Regions from separate parts of the Homo sapiens genome. Here region 1 is linked to region 2. Evidence: fine-mapped expression QTL. A gene starts in region 2. The other region holds a variant in brackets. All regions are shown on one strand. Distances are from middle to middle.

Region 1 (2,913 bases), 23 kb before region 2:
GTCTTGTCACCCAGGATGGAGTGCAGTGGCACAGTCAAGGCTCACTCCAGCCTTGACCTTCCAGGGTTAAGTGATTCTCCCACTGCAGCCTCCCTAGTAGCTGGGACTACACACCACCATGACTAGCTAATTTTATTTATTTATTTTTTTGGTAGAGACAGGGTCTCCCTATGTTGCCCAGGCTGGTCTCAAATTCCTGGGCTCAAACATTCCTCCCACTTAGGCCTCCCAAAGTGCTGGGATTACAGGCATAAGCCACCCCACCTGGCCAAAACTAGTAATAGTCAATAGAATGATCAGTACAATTAATAAGATCTAGGTACAAGGTAGTAAAAATGTGAGAAAGGATACTTTTCACCTCATGGTAAGACATGGTTATCAGGAAACATTCTTTAAAAACTGCCTTAAATAGCTCTTGAGACAGCTGCAAGTAAAGTTGGGATGAAGAAACCATTCTGAGTAGCATGAATAGCATAAAAAAGCATAAAGCATAGCGAAAGCCTAATCAGAAGATAAGGCTTATGGAAAAACAATGCAAGGTAGGGCTGTAAAGGTAATTTAAAGCCAAATTAGAGAGAGCCTTAAATGTGGTAAGGAATCTGGACTTCATTCAGTAGGCAGTGGAGGGGCAGTTCAAGTCTATAAACATGATCAATGATGTGCTCTAAAAAGAAACCATTTTGTTTGGGGTGAGGTTCAGGCATCATCTCAAGCTTCTAAAGATGATGATCAGAATCAGATGATTCTAACATGCCAGCAGGGTAGAAAGACACTAGCCTAAGGAAAGCCTATGCATATCTCTCAATCTTCATCAAACAAAATTTGGAAGAAACCACCTATTACTAGCTAAGTTTGACCTAGCAAAATCAAAATTTAAAAAGCAGACCATTCCCATAACAAAAGAAAAATAGATATTGAATATATACAATTTATTTAATAAATTAATGTCATTCAAAATACAGTGCCAGAACATGGTGCAGTTGAACATGCTAGTAATGTTTGTCATGAAGCACCTGTGCTCATGTTAGATTGGCGGCGCCCCACTACTGCTAGTGGTTCCTGGGATTAATGCCAGAGCAGCGCTAGTTATCTGCTCTTCTGCACAGCTAGTGCAGAGAATTCCTGAACAGTTCACCTTACTAATCCTAACCCCCACACGCACACAACAGGTTAAAAAAAACACACCCTGACAGCTAACAGATCTATACACAATCACTCTACAGTAATGCTTGTTATTAAATTAAGATGTAATGACCTGGTTAACC[C/G]ACTCTAAATCTTGAAGATGGAGAACTACATCAGCAGCAGATAGTTATATGCATGAGCCAATGTTAACATAATACAGAAAGTGGAGGCTTTTTCTGATTAAAGCTCCACGCAGACCCGCACAATGAGTGGCTGGCAATTCTTACTGCAAGCCTAGCAACTTAAGTCCACACCTGGTAAATGACCAGCTGACTGGAAGACCTGTATTCTAGATAGACAAGTATAAGTTAGTGAAAAGAGAATACATGCACCTAATAGTATAGTTAGACTGATCCTGCAGTCATAGCTTTCCCTGTGTAATACCATAAAATTATGGAAGATCTTCCTCAACTAGAGTATAGGATTTAGACATTTCTATACCAACACGGACATTAGTGTTAAGTGCAGTTGAATTAATTACACTGAAAACTGTATTCCAGGACTTCAGAACAGAAGCACGGGAATGAAACACACATACTAAAATAACCTCAGCACAATTTGTGATACATCACACTAGGAACAGGAAACTACTTTTATAAATGAACTTTTTGAACTGTACATACACAGGGCTAACAATGTTAGATAATCCAGATTCTTATACTCTCATGATTACACATAAAGTTTCTCAATTATTGAATAATCTATTTCATATTATGGAAGCATATCTTTCTGTAAGACTCACTGATATATATTATACTGATGCAAATATTAAGTAGGGCATAAAAATAAAATTTATCAAAGATAGAATTTTATGTACTCATATTTAGTTCTTTCATAGCCTCTTTTGTTTAGCAAAGAAAATGACAAAGCACATAACTCAGGCGTGCACTCCCTGAACTTCCCCACTATACAGGTGGTAGTGCAACCATTTCTCCATCCAGTTCAAACTCTTCTGTCCCATCCGTTGAAAAAAGATAAGTTGGTGGTTTCCATGGAGACTCTTCAAGGCAGGATGGATAGAGTTTCCCCACAGTGCATCGAAAATCTCTCCCCAAGTCCCACAGTACACGTTCAGATATATGCTGCCGCAGAGACCACCGGTCAAGTTCCAGGTCATATTGGTAGGTGACGTATTTAGCTCGCTCATTTAAGTGGGTTTCTCGCATAAACACACATAGAGAATTTGAGATCACAACAGCTCTAACACAGGGGTCAGAGTACCTCTTAGCAGGGATGTTGGCTGCCATTTTCCACTCATTTTTATTCACATCATAAATTTCCACAGTTACTGAAGACCCATCTACAGTGCCAGAGGGGAGTCTTATGCCGGAATTGGTAGCAATATGCAACCCTCCAATATAGAAAATTTTATCACCAAAAGCTGCAGCTGAAGCAAAGGACCTACTAGTCTGTCTCATGGCCATTTCTACCCATGAGTCAGACCTTGGAAAATAACAGTACATGAGGTTCAGTGTCATCACATAAATGCAGTCATGAACCACAACTGCTGCACTCCATTGCCAAGCACAAGGTAAAGGGCTTACCATCGTCCACTCATCTTTCTCAGTGTCGTATCTTTCTACGGTCCTCCGATTAAGTTCTCCACCTACGCTATCTCCTCCAATTGCATAGATATAGCCTTCACAGCAAACCAAAGATGGCTTTATGCGGACAAAAAGCATTGGGGTCTTTGGAAACCAGGTATTTTGCTGTGCATCAAACCAATAAAAG
Region 2 (2,913 bases):
AGAAAAAAAAGTCGGGGAAAAAAGTCCTTATCAAAGGTTAACCAAACTAAGTCATTCACAATTACAAGAGATCTAAGACCCATACTACTCAAATTCGGCAAAAATGTACAACTCAGAGGGAAGAGGGGGAAGATCCCTGTTAATTAGTTGCCTCGATAAAAGAAAATATCATTTTGGTCAGTGCACAGCGTTGATAGGGTTTCGTTTCTCAATGCCTAAATGCTGTGAGCCCGACGTACAGATTCAAGTATAAACAACACGTGACCAGTCCTGTTGCCTACGTCTTCATAAGGCTAATTGACACAGAAGATAGTTCACACACACACCCTTTTAAAGTTCATTTTGTATTTTGAATTCTTTTCCTATTTTCACTGGAAGGGGTCACCGTGGTAGCCCGTGGGATGGACGCTCCTCTACCTTTTGAGGCAGGTAGAGTTCTTAGATAGCTAAGCCCAAGGGAAAAAAAGATGTTAACTCAAAATAACCGCCCCACACCAAACTAAGCGATTTTTCTATTCCCCGGTTGTTCAATCCGTAGGGAGAAGGAGGTGGTCGAATTCAAGGAAGTTAAAGATTTCACAAAGTAAACACGTACACAATTTTCCGTTTCAAAGGGCAGTTTCTGCTTTCTTTTTTAAGTCGATATAGACCATAACAGGAGCTCTGTTCGTCTAGACCTCTCTTGGTTAGTTCAGATGTACGCGGGGGGAATACAGAAGGAAGGGGGTGTCCTCCTTCGGCCCACCATGTCGCGAACACGTCGCGAGTCTTTAAGGGAAACAGCTTTACTTCGGTAAGGGCGGGCGCGAGCCGAGGCCAAGGCGCCGCCCGGGAGCCCCGCGGGCGCCGAGGCGCCCGGTGCCGGGGCCGGAAACGCCCAGCTAGCGGCGTACCGGGCCGCCCCTTCCCCGCGGACCTGCCCGGAGCTCCGCCGCCCTGGGGCCGCCGCGGGGTGCGGAGGGCGGCGCCGGCCGCCCGCGCCCCTCCCCCGCCCGCGGCGGAAGCGTCTCGGGTTTGAAAGATGCCGCGGCCGCCGCCTCCCACCCGCCGAGCCACAAAGGGCCGAGCCCCCTCCCGCCACAGCCCTCCTCCCCGGCCCCTCCACAGGTCGCCGCGGGCTCCCAGCCTGCCCGGCGCTACTGTCGCCTGCTCACCCGCGTCCCTCGGTCCGGAGGTGTGGGATCCGCTCCAGCCGGTGGCCCCGTCCACACTGGGCCCCTCCGGCGCGGCGGCGGGGGCGTGGCCCTCCCGCCGCGGCCTCGCCTGGGGTCTCGCCTCCGCCTCCGGCCGAGGAAGGCTGGCGCCGCCGCCTCTTCCTTCCGGTTTCCCCTCGCACCCTCCCTCGCTTGGTCCGTCCAGCGCGGAAAGCAGCGTCCTCTGCGGGCGCCGCCGCACGCTCCTCAGGGCCCGACCACCGCCAGACTCCTCCCCCGGGAGCCGCGCCGCCCGCCCGCCCGCGCCGCCTTGTCAGTCCGGGGCCGCGAGACGCCGGGCCCGCCGCCCCCGCCGCCCCCGCCCCCGCCCCCGCCGCGCGCTCTCGCCCCCGCCCGCGGCCCGGGAACGCGCGCGCAATGGACCGCTGGCCAGCCTGCCGCGCCCGCCCTCGCCACGCCGCCCTCCCGCCTCGCGCGCGCGCGCGCCTGTCGGCACCAGCGGCAGTTTTGCAGTTTCCCGGGTCCTCGCGACCGTCCCCCGCCCCTCCCTTACTCTAGCTGCCCCCGCCCTTTTCCTCTGCCGGATGCCACCGGAAAGCCAAAACAATTGGGGCCGCGCAGGCGCGAAAGAGGAAACGGAAAGAGCAGGAAGGGCGGGGGCGGCGCGAGGTGACGGGAAGCGTAATTGAAGGGGGTTCCCGGGAAAGGTCATGGGAGAGCCCTTGAGGGGCGCGTGCGCGGCAGAGGGGCACTCCGAGTAGCCGCGGCGGCCGAGGCCTTGGGCCTAGACGGGCGGATGGAGAGGCCCGACAAGTTCATTGCTAGGAAATCTAGAGAGCAAAACACCAATTGTTATGCTGAAGGAGGTGTTTTATCCCTTGGAATTTCCCCTGAAATACAGATTTTTGCAGGCTGGCTCGGAAAGTGGGAATGAGTAGGACTAAACAATACCAGACCGGGGGCAGGAGAAAGTTGAGGAGGCGTTGGGCGGGTCGCTTTGTTGCCGCAGCACCTCTTCTCCAAACCATGCCCTCCTCTCTCCAGAGCCGCTTCGGCTTTTCCCAAGGCCAAGGAAGAAGTCAGAGCAGCACCCAAAAGGGCCCGCAGTTGGGGGAGGTTAGGGGAAAAGGGAGAGAGAGACATCTGGGTGCGGACGGCAGCTCCAGCGTCTGAAGCCTTCCGTTGTGTGCTGCAATGCGGCGGCTGCACGCCCCCAACCCCCCGAGTTCCAAAAGAGCGCCTTCAGCGTTGCTTCGCAAAGCGAAGCGTTTGTAGCAGCAGCTAATGGCTGTGGCCCGTACTGTTTTAGTTAACTTGGCACAGCTTGCTGGCAGGCAGGCTGTAAATTTGCTAGGAGCTATTCGTGGATCAAAAAATTGTCAGAAATGCCCACACAGACTCCACCTACCTTCCTAACTTACAGTCTTGGCACAAGCCCAATCTAGAGAATATAGATGACTAATTATAATCTGAAAGGCCATACAGTACATTACTGAAGGGAGCCTCTTCCTGTAAACTAGGCTAGATCAACTGAATGCACACCAAGATGCGTGTTATCAGGAACTACTGATAAAGGATTGTTTTACTGTAGAATCTGGAAACTACATTCAACAAATCTTCATTGAGTTTCCAGCATGCTACCACTGTACTTAGTCTAATTAAGTAGTTAAGTGGTATGATATCAAACAAGCTATACAAAAGATTAAAGTCATTTAACACACACTTGAGCACCTACTTTGTGCCAGATTGGGTATGAGAG

The links. PIP is the estimated chance that this variant, and not a neighbour inherited with it, causes the effect.
Region 1: its variant is fine-mapped to the expression of KBTBD2 in whole blood (INTERVAL, PIP above 0.99).

The regions. Positions count from the first base shown.
Region 1 is chr7:32,867,258-32,870,170 of GRCh38, forward strand. KBTBD2 (kelch repeat and BTB domain containing 2) reads right to left here. Exons shown (of 4, transcript NM_015483.3): 4 at 915-2,913. The coding sequence ends at 2,088. Among named protein-coding and RNA genes, the nearest start is that of KBTBD2, 23 kb to the right of the region's middle. The variant C/G (reference allele first, on the strand shown) is at 1,266.
Region 2 is chr7:32,890,382-32,893,294 of GRCh38, forward strand. It overlaps KBTBD2 (kelch repeat and BTB domain containing 2), which reads right to left and starts at 1,379. Exons shown (of 4, transcript NM_015483.3): 1 at 1,155-1,379. RefSeq lists a silencer at 739-1,688 and enhancers at 1,460-2,163, 1,869-1,928.